2 separate regions of the Homo sapiens genome follow, and region 1 is linked to region 2. The links come from fine-mapping of genetic effects on gene expression. Tissue or cell type: tibial nerve. Region 2 holds a variant in brackets; the other region holds the start of a gene. All regions are shown on one strand. Distances are between the middles of the regions.

Region 1 (8,271 bases), 52 kb before region 2:
CACCGTGTTAGCCAGGATGGTCTAGATCTCCTGACCTCGTGATCCGCCTGCCTCGGCCTCCCAAAGTGCTGGGATTACAGGTGTGAGCCACCTTGCCCGACCCTCCTCATTTCTTCTCAAAGTAAAAAACAGGATACGTGTGCAGAATGTGCAGGTTTGTCACATAGGTATACGTGTGCCATGGTGGTTTGCTGTACCTATTGACCCATCCTTTAAGTTCCCTCCCCTCAACCCCCAACCCCCAACAGGCCTTGGTGTGTGTTGTTTCCCTCTCTATGTCCATGTGTTCTCATTGTTCAATTCCCACTTATGAGTGAGAACATGCAGTGTTTGATTTTCTGTTCCTGCCTTAACAGTTTTTGATTTAAATGCTATTTTAGCCAATATACATATAGCTACTTCTGAACTCTTTTGCCTTATATTTGCCCAAAATATCTTTTTCCATTCCTTTGCTTTCAACCTGTGTGTGTGTCTTTAGAGGTGAAGTGATGCCCTCACAGGCAGCAAATAGTTGGGTCTTCTATTTTTAATTCATTCAGCAAATCTATGTCTTCTGATTGAAGAATTTAATCATTTTGCTTTCAAGGTAATTATTGATAAGTAAGGACTTACTACAGCCATTTTGTTGTTTTCTTGTTGTTTTTTACATTCTTTCTTCCCTTCTTTTTCTCTTGTTGTCTTCTTTTGTGATAGATAATTTTCTCTAATAGTGTGCTTTCGTTCTTTACTTTCTATATTTTGTGCATCTACTATAGGTTTTTGCTTTGTGGTTACCTCAAGTCTTACATAAAACATTCTATATTTATAAAAGGCTATTTTAGGCTGATAACAACTTCAATTGCATAAAGAAGTTCCATACTTCTACTCAACTCTCCCTGATATTTTATGTTTCTGATGTCACATTTACTTCTTTTTATATTGTATATCCCTTAACAAACTATTGTAGCTGTCTATTTTTTAAATTAATTTTGTCTTTTAACATTCATATTAATGATATAGGTGATTTATATACCACCATAACAGTATTATTCAGAGTTTCACTATGTACTTACTTTTGCCAGTGACTTTTATTCTTTCATACGTTTTCATGTCACTAATCAGCATCCTGTTTTTTCAGCTTTAGCATTTCTTGTAAGGCAGGTCTGGTAGTAATACACTCTCTTAGCTTTTGAATTTCATTTTTATATTAAATCTTACATATCAAGAATAAAACAGGTGGCCAAAGTTTAAATTATATTTATATATCATATTTTATAAATATTTTAATATATTTTGTGTTTAGCCACTTTTGCCAATAGTTTTTTCAAAAATTATTTTCTCAACTTTCTGTATTACAATAAAAAAATTTTTATCTCCAAGTAGAAAGCTTTTATCATTCATCTTCTTAAACCTTTTCATTGTCTCTCTTGTTCTTACCATAAACCCAAAAATGACTCTATGAAATTACCTGACATCATAGGCATAGGGCTCTAGGTTTAGTATGAAGCAAAACAACAATAACAAAACAACAAAAAGGTAACATATTAGGTTAAAAAAAAAGATTGTGTACTATAAACTCAGATAGAACTGGCCCCTGATTTGAGCCCACTTAATCTTGTTTTCAGTCCCTTCATGTGTGGCACATTCATTCCTCAAAACCTCCATGCCGGCCATTTCCTCTTCCTTAAACAGTTCTTACCTCCCATCCCCCTTCCACAATGTTAACACCAGCTTATCTTCTGTACCACCTTGAGCATTTGTTCCTTCTGAAAGTCTTTTCTGGTATTTGTAATTTGTGACATTACATCTCATACTTATAACACATTCCTTTGCGTTTTTGCTTCATTTGACTTTTCCCCTACCTTATTTATTTATCTTTCCATCATAATTCCATTTTAAAATGTTTTGGGATTTTTGAGGGCCTCTTAATACAACCTTGTACTTTCCTCCTCAGTTCAGAGCTGAGACACACAGGAGACAAGGAGTTGACAGAGAATGTCAACAATTTTATGATATACATCTGGGAAAATGAGGCTTTAGATTTTTCAGGCAAAATACCTTGTTCTGCCTTGCCTCTGATTTAGACTAGCTTGCTCATCCAGTCCCTAGCATAGACACATACAAGTCTCTTTCGGAAAGCTTGGCCACTGACTTTGCTAATGTGGACAGACCAGAATGCGTGGCCTATTCAGGCAGGGAGATTGACTTCTGTGAAGCGTCAAGGCTCAGCATATAGCTCACCCATAGCTCACTGATATCTGATGCTTCTCCCACTCAGAGGAATGAGTTATGACAAGAAGAATGTTGTTCTAAATGAAGTCCTTATACTTGAAGTAATAAGTGTAGAATAATTAATTATACCGTTTTCCCAAATCTCTCTTCCTTTCCTTAAACTTACTGCTATTTGTTCTTTCTCATAATACAGTATCTTCTTGTACTAAATTCAGATTGTGATAGCCTCTCCTGCATGACTACTGGGTAAATAACAAAAGGAAGGCAGAAATAAAGATGTTCTTTGAAATCAATGAGAACAAAGACACAATGTGCCAGAATCTCTGGGACACATTTAAATTTCTTGTCTTTAATTAGCCCACAGAATAGTGAAACTATCCTTGGGCAATGGTAATCATTTTTCAGCTTTTTTATAGAACTGCTTTGAAAATAGCTTTACTTTTTTTTTTTTTTTGAAAGACAATGTAAGATACAATAATTTTCTCTGAGTTCCTCTTCAAAGATTTAGCCGCTAACTTCCTGGTCTTTTGTTCTCAAACTCAACTTTCCTTTTCCTTAGTTACTGTAAAACAGCCTACCGCTTCCCATCAGCTCTAATCAATAACTCACATCTGTTCCCGTAGTTACCTGGACTCATTGTTCCCCGGAAACTGCACATCTCACATGCCTCACCACTGTACCCCGTGTTCCCCTTCCCTTCCATATTTAGAAAGATATTTGCAAGTAGCCAATCTGGTCAGCTCAGCCCATGGGGGAGTGACACAGCCCATGGGGGACCCCAGCCCATGGGGGAGTGACACAGAAGTAGAAACTGTCAGAGATAAAAGCTCCCTGCTCTCCTTCCTTCCCTGTGCTCTTGTGATCTTGATTGATGCGAGTGGCACCCTTCTACAGAAGTAAATTGCCTTGCTAAGAGAACTTTTGCCTAAGTGTTGGTTTCACTTTGCGGCACTGAGCATTTATTCCTAGAGCATTTTTACACCCAACAACTCTGGGGGCTCATCTGGGATCCCCACTCTCCTTCAGAAAGGGATCTTCAGTCATCCTACCCAGGGGAGACGCATTCCAATGCCCCGTTGCGGTAGTCTCAGGGAGGGGAGATCGGGACCCACCCATTGTGATGAATAAACTCGGACTCTCAGCAACGCGAGGAGGAGAGGCTTGCAATACCGCGGTGACCAGGTAAACTCTGTGCACAGATCAAGGTAGGAAACGTCACAGGGGCGACAAAGTACTTCCTTGGTGGTTGGGGGCCGTGGGTCGGGGCATTCTGGAGGTTGAAAGTGCGTGAATGGTAGCAAGCGCTCCTGCTGCGCAGAATGAATGAGTCCAATCTGTGGTTCTGTGGTCACCTCATATGGGGGTCCCATCAGGGGTTTATGCTGACCCGCCATCAAGGCTAAGAGGAACCTGAAATATTCCCACGAGGGAAGCGGCCAGAGTGGACAAAGCGAAAGGATGCAAAGAGCCTCCAGCAGGTGGGGCTAAAGGATAGGCGAATTGAGCCTCAGTTACGATTCCAGTGAAGGATAGGCAAGAGGTCCCCTAACACAAGGGGTTGAGCCACAAGGAATCCCTCGCCAAATAGGCGAGAAATCCCTAATATGATGGGGTTGAGCCACAGCAATGCCCCGTTAGGCAAGAAATTCCTAATATGAGAGATTGCGCCTAGCCAAGACCCAATATGGGAAATATTACAAGCAAAAATGGTAAGAATAGTAACAAAGATATATACCACCTGATAGTCCCCTAAGTCTCATGAAAAAGGATATGAATAGTAACAAAGATATACCACCTGATAGTCCCCTAAGTCTCATGCTAAAATGTTGGGAAGATAATGAAAGAACTAAACATAAGAAAAAGCAACAAATGATAAAATATTGCTTTTCTATTTGGACTCAAAGACCTAACCTCAATCCGTCAATCTTCTGGCCAAAGTTTGGGTCAACTGAGGATATACTATGTCAACTTTCAGTTTAACATGTAAATAATAAAAGCCCAGTTTCTCAAGAAGAACTGGACTATGCTCTTTTTTGGAGGCAAAGACCTGTCCTCCCTTTCCCTTATGCACCTGCCCCTACTGTGGAGACAGTGAAGGAGGGTTCTCAGAGGATCCTAGCAAAGAAAACAGCACATAGGATTCCCTGGACCATCCTTTACCTAATGCCCCTAGTCCCCCATCTAATACCCCCAACCCTTCCCCTCAGGCCCAGCCTAAGTCCTCCTCTGTGAAAGGAATCCAAGCTCCTCATTCGCCAGGTGGCTTTTGACAGGCTAGCGACATCAAGGATCTGCCTCAACATGTTGTCGTTGTCGTGCAGCCTCTAGTGCGCCCCCACAGCAGAAAAAGCCCATGCTCTGCCGCAGCCTATGCCTAAGCAGACTACATTATGGGACATATGCCTTACTTTTGCCAGGGTCAAGTAATACAGGCTTCAGATGCGGCTCCAAGCAGCTAGGCATCCCCGCGGCTAAGTTTCCTGAACAAGTAGTAGATAATCTTTCAGCTGATATATCCGCTAGCATTTATTATGGGTCAGGCCAGTATTAAAAGTGAAAATATCCACCAGAAAAGACTTTGATTATTTAAAGTCACTTATATTAAAATGTACCACCAGAAAAGTATTACATGTGTATAAGTACGAGTTTAAAAGTATAGTTTAACATTAATGACTGATAATTCGCTTAATCTAGCAAGTTTCTTAATGAGATATCCAAAGCTAAAAAGAAAGCACACGTGTTTAGATTTAACTGATTACAAACGTTCGGCCAAACTTAGAAGAAACCCTCTTCAGGAATGATTAAGGGAAAAAGAACGCAACAGGTGTTCAGTAATTAATAAAGAAGTTCCTAGAGAAATTTATAAGCTGTCTGCACTTAGTCAAGCTTTAAATTACCTGCAGGACCAGGAAAGAACCATCTGTACTAATTCTAAATATGCCTTTACAGTGGCTAATACATTTAGCAAATTTCAGACTGGATTAATAGTAAAAGTCAAAGCCTTGTTCATGAGGAGTTAATCACCCAAGTATCTATTGTCCATGTCCCCAAGCACCAGAAAAGCCTGTCTTTTAAAATAACCTAGCAAATCAGATAAGCCGAACAGGCTGCTGTTTCTCCTGTAGGCACTAAAGGGAACTCAGAAAAACATTACCCATTAAAGACCCCAAGCGATGTATAACACAGTCAAAGTTTATATGTGTTTAGGAATTTATACCCTTAGCCAAACAAGTCTAGAGACTTGGTTGCCATAGATGAAATGTCTTCTATCTTCCTATTACCCTAGTAAGTCCAAACTACCTCCCAAAACAATCTACTGCCAACATTCCTACATACTTGGTTTATCTTCCACTTTCTCTTCCCTCAGAACTCAAAATTTTCCGGTACAGGTGCCACCCCTAAAGTTCCCAGTATATTGACACCAGCCTGAGGAGCTGGCCTAGTGCTTCAAACCACTGAAACTGCAGTCCAAACAGCAAGAAAAGATGGACCCATCATACCCGAGTCAAGAAAGCACCACCATCCCCAAAGTCATGGACCATTATTCAAGGGAAAAAACCCCTCAAACTAAAGTTAAGGAAAGTTTAACTCTCTTTTATCTATTCTATTACCCTTTCTTCTTTCCTCATTCTATTGCTGACCTTATTATCAATGTAACTAAGTCAGACTCATCCCAAATCATTACCTTTGAGGCTTGCCTTGTTATGCCTTGTGAAGAGGACGAACAATGGCAAAGGTATGTCTCTCCTTTAGAAAAACACCTCTGCCCCTTCAGAGAAACCACTGACCTCACACCTTGCTCATGGTGGGGGTACCAAGGCACCTTAAGTTAGGAGATACGTTCTCAATGAGCAGATGTCATCCTGACTGCCAATGAACACGGCGAGACCTCCCCAGAAGGCTGTACCAACCTAAAATCTTACCTCCTCCTTACCAAATGAACCACCCCCTCTAATTGCCAACTTTACCATTGTAACCCAGTAACTATCTCTATTAATGCTGCTACCTCTACCAACCATACGCTTCCTTTAGAAGGCTTTTACGGCTTAGGGGCAGAGGCCAATGGATACGACCCTGTAGGCCTCTTTAAAATACGCTTTATTGACCCTCCTTCACCTTCTAAACTTTCTACCCTGCCCAACAACAATGCCAAAGTAAATATTGTAGAAGTGAAGGATCTAAGACAAACTCTAGCAATTGAAACAAGGTATCAAGATATAAATGCTTAGTTGGGATGGATTCAATATTCTGTCCGCACTTTGAATAAAAGCAATTGTTATTCTTGTGTGCACAGCAGACCAGAGGCCCAGATTGTCTCCTTTCCGCTAGGATAGTCCCTCAGTCGACCAGACATGGGCTGTATAGTAGCTGTTTTCCAAGATTCCACAGCCTAAGGCAACAAATCATGCCAAGCTCTCTCTCTGCTATATCCTGAAGTCCAACACCCTGGAGGTCAGCCCCCGAGGGCCATTCAGCTTCCACCTCCTGACGTCAATTTCACCTCATGTCTCTCACAACATGGGGAGAACTTGGCATTCCTTGGAAGCTTAACACGTTGCAGCAAGCTTAGGCCCTTCCAAGAGCTTACCCATCAGTCTGCCCTTAGTCATCCTTCAGAGGATAGATGGTGGTGTTGCAGTACACCCTTAACGGACACTCTGCCAAGTAATGGGAGCGGCACTTGTGCTTTTGTCCAGTTGGCTATCCCTTTCACTGTAGAATTTCATCAACCAGAAAAAGAAAAACCACAACACTGAAAAATAAGAGAAGCCCCTTATAAGTCTTTTAACTCTCAAGTTTACATAGATGCCATTAGTGTCCCACGAGGAGTGCCTGACAGGTTCAAAGCCCGAGACCAAATAGCTGCAGAATTTGAATCCATATTTCCACAAGTAACTATTAATAAAAATGTAGCTTAGATAAATTACATCCATTATAATCAGCAGCAGTTTATTAATTACACCAGGGATGCCATCAAAGGAATAGCTGACCAATTAAAGCCTACTAACCAAAGAGCTTAAGAAAACAGAATAGCACTAGACATGTTATTAGCCAAAAAGGTGAGGTTTGTGTTATGATTAAAACCCAATGTTTTACCTTAATCCCAAACAACACTGCCCCCGATAGGAGCATAAAAAAGGCCTTACAAAGACTTACCACTTTATCCAATAAACTAGCTAAAAATTCTAGTCACTGACCCTATTTCAGGATGGCTAAGAAAGTAGTTCAGTAAACGGAAAAGAATCATAGCCTTAATTCTTATTTCTCTTGCAATTGTAATAAGTGTACTCTTTCTTGTTAGGTGTTATGTCATACCACGCATCCATAGGCTAATACAAAGGACTGTACAAACAGCACTTACTAAAGCCTCCCTTAGTTCTCCTCCACCTTATTCAAGTAAGCTTTTCCTTTTAGAAGATCAAATCGAATGGCAAAGCCAAGACATGTTAAAAACGTTTGAAGAGAAAGAATCATAAGAAAATTAAAAGGGGGGAATTGTAAGATACAATGAATTTCTCTGAGTTCCTCTTCAAAGATTTAGCCTGCTAACTTCCTTGTCTTTTGTTCTCAAACTCAACTTTCCTGTTCCCCCTTGTCCCTAGTTACTGTAAAACAGCCTACCTGCTTCCCATCAGCTCTAATCAATAACTCACGTCTGTTCCCTTAGTTATCTGCACCCACTGTTCCCCCGAAACTGCACATCTCACAGGCCTCACCACTGTACCTCAAGTCCCCCTTCCCTTCCATATTTAGAAAGATATCTGCAAGTAACAAATCAGGTTAGCTCAGACTGTGCGGTCTGACCCCGGCCCATGGGGGAGTGACACAGAAGTAGAAACTACCATTAGAGAGAGAACTTCGCTGCTCTCCTTTGTTCCCTGTGCTCTTGTGATCTTGATTGATGTGAGTGGCACCCTTCTGCAGAAGTAAATTGCCTTGCTAAGATAACTTTTGCCTGAGTGCGGGTTTCACTTTGTGGCACCGAGCATTTATTCCCAGAATATTTTTATACCCAACAACAAGCTATATCTATAGTTTTTTTTAATTTAAGGGAAAGCA
Region 2 (8,271 bases):
GAAATTATAAATTTTGTTGATTTTTTTCAGGGAAGCAGCTCCATGCCTTATTGATTTTTTCTATTATTTTTCTGTTTTCAGTTTTATTGATTTCACTCTTATTTTTGTTGTTTTCTTTTTTCTACTTGCTTTGGATTTATAGTCTGATTTTTTCTATACTCTTGAAGTGGTAGCTGAGCTTATTGATCTGAGACTTTTAATTCTCCTAATATAATTATTTAATTGTATGAATTTCCCTCTTGGTAATACTTTCGCAGTGTCCCACACATTTTGATATGTTGAATTGTCATTTTTCTTCAATATAATTTTTTTTTGAGACACAGTCTTACTCTGATGCCCCGGCTGACGTGCAGTGGCATGATCTCGGATCACTGCAAACTCTGCCTCCCGGGTTCAAGGGATTCTCCTGCCTCAGCCTCACAAGTAGCTGGGATTACAGGCATGGGCCACTATGCCCGGCTAATTTTTTTTTTTTTTTAATTTTTAGTAGCGGGTTTCACCATGTCAGTTAGGCTGGTCTCAAACTTCTGACCTCAGGTGATCCACCTGCCTCGGCCTCCCAAAGTGCTGGGATTATAGGCATGGGCCACTGTGACCGGCAATATATTTTTTAAAATATCCCTGACACTTCCTTTTTGACCCAAAGATTATTTAGAAATGTGCTGTTTAGTTTTCTACTGTTTGGAGATTTTCATTACATATATATGCTACCATTATATATATATATTATATATATACTACCATTATATATATATATTATATATATACTACCATTATATATACATATTATATATATAAAATGAATAATATATTTATTTATTTCCAGTTTTACTTCATTTTATGTGGAAAATACACTCTGTATGCTTGAAATTATTTTTAAAAGTTTGGGTTTCTTTCATTGTTCAGTACAATTTAGGGCTATGTTCTGTGAGCACTTGAAAAAAAAAATGTATTCTCCTCTTGTTGAGTAGCATGTTCTAGAAGTGTTTTTCAGATTAGGTTGATTGATTGTGTTATAAGTTCTTATATATCATTGCTAACTTTCTGTATAATTGTTTTTTTTTATTGTTAAGAGAAGTGAGTTAAAGTCTGTCCCTGAAGTTGCAGATTTTATATTCTTACTGTCATACAGAATGTACTGTGGGAATGTACTGTGGGAATGTACCAAAATTCATTTAACCCATCTGATGGTGATGGACATTTAGATATTTCCAGTTTTAAGTTTTATTCTACAAATCATGTTGCAGTAAGCATTCTAATTGATGGGTTCTGGTAATTATATATTTACAGTTTTGTGTGAAATGGACCTGATGGTTATGCGTATCTTTATCATTACAAGATATGCAAAAAATAATTAGTTAAATTTACATACCTGCCAGTAGTATGACAGATATACTACAGAGCAGGTAGAACAATTTTAAAAGAGTAATAAAAAAGAGAAAACAATCTTTCCAATACTCATAGTCTCACCAATTTTTTGCTGTTGATTTTTGGAAGTTCTTTATATGTTTTAGATTTTAATCTTTTATCAGATATATGGTTTGCAAATATTATTTCCCATTCTGTAAGTTGCTCTTTTACTCTGTTGATTGTTTTCTTTGCTGTGCAAAAGCTTTTCAGTTTGATATAGTCCCATTTGCCTATTTTTGCTATTTTTCCTTGTGTTTTTAATGTCCTAACTAAGAAATCATAGCCAAGACCAATGTTATGAAATGTTTCTATTTTGTTTTCTTCTAGGAGTTTTGTGGTTTTAGTTCTTTGGTTTAAGTCTTTGATCCACTTTGAATCTATTTTTGTATGTGGTGTAAGATAAGAGTCCAATTTCATCCTTTTGCATATGGATATTCAGTTTTCCCAAATTCATTTGTTGACAAGAATGTCTTTCCCCATTGTGTTTTCTTGCCACCCTTGTTGAACATCCATTAACCGTATGTGCATGGGTTTATTTCTGAGCTCTCTATTCCATTGGTCTATGTGTCTTAATACTGTGCTGTTTTAATTTATTACACTTATTTATACATACTGTTTTAATTGTTGTCGTTTTATAATATGTTTTTAAATAATGAGGTGTGAGGCCTTCAACTTTGTTCTTTCTTAAGATTGTTTTGGTTATTTATAGTCCTTTGTGGTTCCACATGAATATTAGCACTGCTTTTTTATTTCTATAAAAATTTTCATTGGGAATTAAATAAGGATTGCACTAAGTTCATAGTTACCTCATGCAGTACGAGAATTTTAACACTAGCAAGTCTTCTAAAATGTGAACATAAAATATCTTTCCATTTATTTGCATCTTCTTTAAAAAAAAGTTTTGTAGTTTTCAGTTTATAAGTGTTTGCCTTCTTGGTTAAATTTATTCCAAAGTGTTATATTCTTTTTAATATTATTACTGTAAAAAAGATTGTTTTCTTAATTTCCATTTCACATTGTTCAAGATAGTGTATGGAAGCACAGGTGATTTTTGTGTGTTGTGAAGTTAGTAGATGCAAATTTTTTATCAAAACTGTATCTAGCCAACTTAACAATTTTGAAATAAGTAATATACATTACATTGACAAGTATAAAATATAAATACATGTTCCAAGATATTTAAGATAAATACATCTTAAAGTATTGAGTGAGAAATTAGCAGATTAAGTTGTTTAGCACAATAAAATGTATTTAAATTAAAACACATAAAATCACTGAATAATAACATCTATTTTTAAGGAAACTAAAATATAACAAACGTTATGCCAAAATCACTGGGAGATAAACTGGAGGAGCAGGACATGGAAAATTGGAGTAGACATGGAGAATGCAGGGGGAAAAAGGAGATATTGACCTGTCTAAGAAAGATAGTATGCCATGAAGAATAAGTACGTGGAAAACAGTTCTCTGAACCTTAGCTTCCTTTGGGGAATCATTAGTTTTATAGCCAATACTTAAGACCATGACACTAAAGGAGAACACCTAGGAAGAGAATGTAGAAAACAAATCAAAGTTAAACAAAGTGTATTACATAAATGAAATATGTAGTGTCTCTGAAGTAAATAAAAATGATATAGTGTTTCAAGATATTGGAAATACTGAGTTGAAATCAATATTCCTGAGAGAGTGTGAGATGAGCAAAGAAGGAGGACTATTTAGTTTGTTAACATGGAAAAGCATTGGTGAAGTTGACAATAGCAATTTCAGATAACAACTGGGATAAGAGAAAGACAAACTAGGAGAAGAGTGATGTCAGGTTGAGGAAGTAAAGAGAATACTGATGACTTTTAGCTTTAGGGTAGCAAATATTGAAATAGGGCGATACATGGAGGATAATAATATTTTAGTGGGTACTGCTGTTTGGCCAGCTTGTAAAATGCAACATAGTCAAGAAGGATTCACTAAGTGAATAAATGCAATTTGACGACTATAGTTAACTAAATTTCAGGGAAGTACATGTTTTCTTGTCAGTTGGACACAGAAAAATAACAGTAAAAGTTGAGTTTATATTCCTTATATAATTGGCTTAGTTTATGAGACATTAATATGAAAATACTATGTTCTATAGTTTCTCACTTGTTTTTTAATTTAGATAAATCTTAAATATTAGAAATATATACCTAATTTTCCTTATTAGATTCACAATTAGAGATAAAATGAAACAAGTAGATTTTGATCCCCTTTCATACAGGTCTTAGAAAAAAATTATACTGTTTTTTATTTTTGGTTAAGATCTCTACCTCTCTTTCCAGGCTCTGTGCTTTTTAAAAAGCCCCTTTAAAGAAAACGAAATATCCAATTATTCTGTTGTGAAATAATTATGTGACCTATTCAGCCTAATAATATTTTAGCTAGATGCTTAGAGACTTAAAACTCATTTTAGACTTTATGGCATGCACTCTAGATTCTCCTTCAGGAAAATGTCATTGAAGAAACAGGTTTTTGGTAGTTATGAGAAATATATAGCACATGTTTTCTAGACAAAAGTAATAACTGGCTATTAATCTGAAATATTAATCTGAAAATTGTGATCATTGAAAAGAAGACTCACATCATCTCCTTCTACTTAGATTTGTCTTTT[C/T]ATAAAAAATGGACTCATTAGGTTTTGTCGAATAAAATATGGTTTAATTATTAGACTGGTCCTTCACATGAGTGAGAAGGTAAAAAATTTATAGAAATGTTGGTGGGCCTTCCAATGATGTTGAGATTCCCAAGGTACTTATTGAGAATGCACCAGTTAACAAACTCCATTTTGTGATCAATACAGTGCTTCCAGAAAGATTTTATGAACTCCTGCATAAGAGGCAAATAGAAGTAATTCTTTCCTTCTCTTCTCACTCCTGGCAAGTGTTCATTCACATGCTGTAGGATTTGGTATCCTTAGAACCTGAAAGGATCCTTATGACACAGTCTCGTATCTGTTTGGTTTTCACCCCATAGACAATAGGGTTCATAGTGGGTGGTAGGAGCAGATAAATATTGGCTACAATGATGTGGCAAGAAGGGGGGATTATGTGTTCCCCAAAGCGGTGGGAAAAGAAGGAGAAGAAAGCTGGAGTATAGGAGAAAACAATGGCACAAATGTGGGCAGTGCAGGTATTAAAGGCCTTCTGCCGAGCATCTGCTGAGGAGAGGCTGACCACTGCCCGGAGAATCATGGTATAGGAGTTGGTGATACACAGTATGTCAAAGCCCCAAATCAGGAGGGCAACCATCAGACCATAGATGGCATTGACCTTGACATTACCACAGGACAATTTGGCTACAGACATGTGGTCACAGTAGGTATGGGGAAGTATATTGCCTCTGCAGTAGGGCAGGAGCTTGGTGAGGAAAGTAAAGGGAATAATGAGTAATACCCCTCTCAGGAAGGTGGCAGTCCCAACCTTTGCAATTACAGGATTGGTGAGGATAGTTGAATAGCGTAAGGGGTAGCAGATGGCCACATAGCGATCCAGGGCCATAAGCATAAGCACCCCAGACTCCATCCCTGTGAAGGTGTGGGTGAAGAACATCTGGACAAGGCATTCATCAAATCCAATGTCCTTGAGATGAAACCAGAAGATGCAGAGGGCTTTAGGGATTGTACTAGAGCACATAACAAGGTCAGTAAAGGAAAGCATGGCCAAGAAGTAGTACATGGGTTTGTGCAGGGCATCCTCATAGTGAATGAGGTAGAGGAGTCCACAATTCCCTACCATAGCCACAACATACATAGAGCAGAATGGGAAGGAAATCCAGAGTTGTGTGTCTTCCAGTCCTGGGACTCCATTCAGAATAAATGAAGCTGGTATTAGGTCTGTTTTATTCAGTGTTAGCATGATAAGTCTGGTAGGTTATGAAATAGCTCAAAATTTGTCTGGGCTTTCCTAGAGTTAAAAAAAAAAACAAGAGAAAATATAGGTTATTTTTACTGTCTCCCTCTCCCCCAACTTTTAAAAATTCCATAATGCATTTTAATGGTCCAACAACCAAATTTCTGAGTGCCAAGAAATAATTTTGTTTGTCTGTTTAGTTTTATTGATTGATTAATTAATTGATTCAGTAAAAAATTCTTATTGAGCAGTCTAAGTTTTCAACACAGATGCCAATCAAACATCAATTATTTTATAAAAAGACATATTCCCAATCTCATAGATTTATAATCAAGTATAATTCTGACTTTTCAAATGGTATTTTTATTAGAATATCTTACTTAACTATAACTATACTCATCTCAATATAGATATAATTTTAAAGAAGAGTCATTTGATTACCTCACTGATGATCTGAGAGATGAGATGTTGACTTTTTAATTTTTATTCTTAATGACTGACTGATATTTATTCTTGGGTACTCAGGCACTGTTCAAAGAATTTTGAAATTTTAATTAAATTATTACTCAATGAAGCTTGGGGTCTCAAAAATTAGTAAATTTATTGGGTGTCTATACTCAATAATAATTTAATTGTATATTTTAAAATAACTAAAATAATATAATTGGGTTGTCTGTAACACAAAGGATAAATGTTTGAGATGATGGATACCCCTATTTACTTTACTGGGATTTTTTTTTTTTTTTTTTTTTTTTTTTGAGGCAGAGTCTTGCTTTGTTGCCCAGGCTGGAGTGCAGTGGCGCAATCTTGGCTGCAACCTCCACCTCCCGGATTCAAGCAATTCTCCTGTCTTAGCCTCCCGAGTAGCTGCGACTACAGGCACATGCCACCACGCCCAGCTAATTTTTGTATTTTTAGCAGAGATGGGGTTTCACTATATTGGTCAGGTTGGTCTCCAACTCCTGACCTCAGGTAATCCACCCACATCAGGCTCCCAAAGTGCTGGGATTACAGGCATGAGCCACTGTGCCCGGCCCTTTAAAAGGGATTATTACACATTGTATGCTTCTATCAAAATATCTCATACACCCATAAATATATACACCTACTATGTGCCCACAAAAATTTAAAATTAAAAAAGTCAATGAAGTTTTGATTCAATTTTTTCACTTTTCAAGATATCTTTCTTGTTCTTTATGTATCTAGTCAACGCAAACTAGAAGATATCCAAATGCATACATACAGAAAATATATAAAGTACTTCAACAACATCAGTAAGAAAAAGTTGCAGGAAGAAACATACACTTCAAAAGAGAAATAAAATTGCCAATGAACAGGTAAATAGGCACAAACTTTTATATTAATCAGAAAAATAAGTAAAAATTGTATCTCTCATGACAAAGCACCTTTTTTTGGTATGTAGTGACATACCAAACAGGACAGCTAAAATGAAAAGAACTAAAAATACCAAGCATTGGCAAAGATGTAGAACAACTGGAACTCTCATTTACTGCTGGTAGACATGTAAATTAGAACAACTCTTTATTAGATATCTCATAATGATAAACATACACATGACCACCATTGCCATTTCCAACAAAACTATGTATATATATTTACTAGAATACATCAATTAGAATGCTTATTGAAACATGATTTGTAGTATAGCCTAAAACTGGAAAAAACCTAAATGTTCATCAACATCAAATGGGTAAATAAATTTTGGTACATTCCCACAATGAAATACCACGTAACAATAAGAATAAACAATCTATGACTATATGCATAATATAGACGAATCTCACAATATGTGTTAATTTTTTTTAGAAAGACTTAAAATAGATGTAACATCTTGTGATCTTTAAATGAAATACAAAAACGGATCAAATTATTCTGTGCTATTAGAAATAGAAAAATCTTTTTAAAAAGTGAGAGAGAGTGATAACTGAAAGGCAGTATGTGGTAGAAGGGTCCTGTTAGTTGCTGGTCATATTCCCTTACTTGATTTGGTTGTGAGATATACAAGATTCAGGTTGTAAAAATCAATCAACATGTAATTGGATTAATTGTAAAATTGCATATGTATGTTAGAATTTATAATAACAAAAATTAAATTGCCAAGAGGATTAAAGGACGTAATATGTTAAAACATGCTACCACATTTTAAGTGCTCAATACCCATATTTGTATTTTCTACTCAGGCTGGCAGCCATTTTGGCAATGCTTACAAAAATTAACACCATAGGAATCATGAGTGCCACCAAATGAACTCTCTTTTGTGCCCCATCAGAGGAGGTATTCATCCTAACCTCCATTAATAAAATACACTGTTTTAAGATTAGCATCTGATAGGAAGTACAGTCACATGTTCTGCCTTATTGGGTAAGATGAAGAGGACAGATCAGATTTATCAAAAGGCAACTTGTTTTGAAAATAGTAGAAAAACACAGGTTAAACTTGTTAATAGGCATGCTCCTCAAAGATATGTACTCAAGTCATTACAAAATGTCAGAGTTATACTGGGTGTCATAGGAGCACCTGTGTGTCTAACCTAGCCTCAGGAGATGCTCCTAGAGAAGAGGACAGATGCTTCCAGACCTGGAGCATGATTAGAATTCTGACAGGTCAAAGTGGTAGGAACAGCATTTTCTTCTGTTGCTGTTTGCTGTTTCCTACTCATATCGCACTGACATTCTCAGCTTTGTGATAGGCAAACCTCTATCTCCTTGGTGCTCCCTTTGCCCACTCCCCTCAAATGTAGCTAATCCCTATACATTCTTCAAGCAGAACCATCATCAGGAGGTCTCAAATGTCCTTTGGACATGATAGCGACCCATCCTTTAAATTATTTTAAGATAATGTAGCTACCAATAGCCTTGACTAGGGGTAAGAAATTGATTTGTTCAAACAATTATTCTCTTTAATAATATTTCCCTCATGATATTATGAAAATCAACTTATATTTAGGAATTCTCCAAAATTCAGT

Evidence for each region. PIP is the estimated chance that this variant, and not a neighbour inherited with it, causes the effect.
Region 1: it holds the start of OR52N2, and the variant in region 2 is fine-mapped to the expression of OR52N2 in tibial nerve (GTEx, PIP 0.94).

What each region holds. Positions count from the first base shown.
Region 1 is chr11:5,804,044-5,812,314 of GRCh38, reverse strand. It overlaps OR52N2 (olfactory receptor family 52 subfamily N member 2), which reads right to left and starts at 3,391. Exons shown (of 2, transcript NM_001005174.3): 1 at 3,261-3,391.
Region 2 is chr11:5,751,761-5,760,031 of GRCh38, reverse strand. OR52N4 (olfactory receptor family 52 subfamily N member 4) reads right to left here and starts at 5,789. Exons shown (of 2, transcript NM_001005175.5): 1 at 5,727-5,789; 2 at 4,074-5,339. The coding sequence starts at 5,291. The coding sequence ends at 4,326. The variant C/T (reference allele first, on the strand shown) is at 4,052.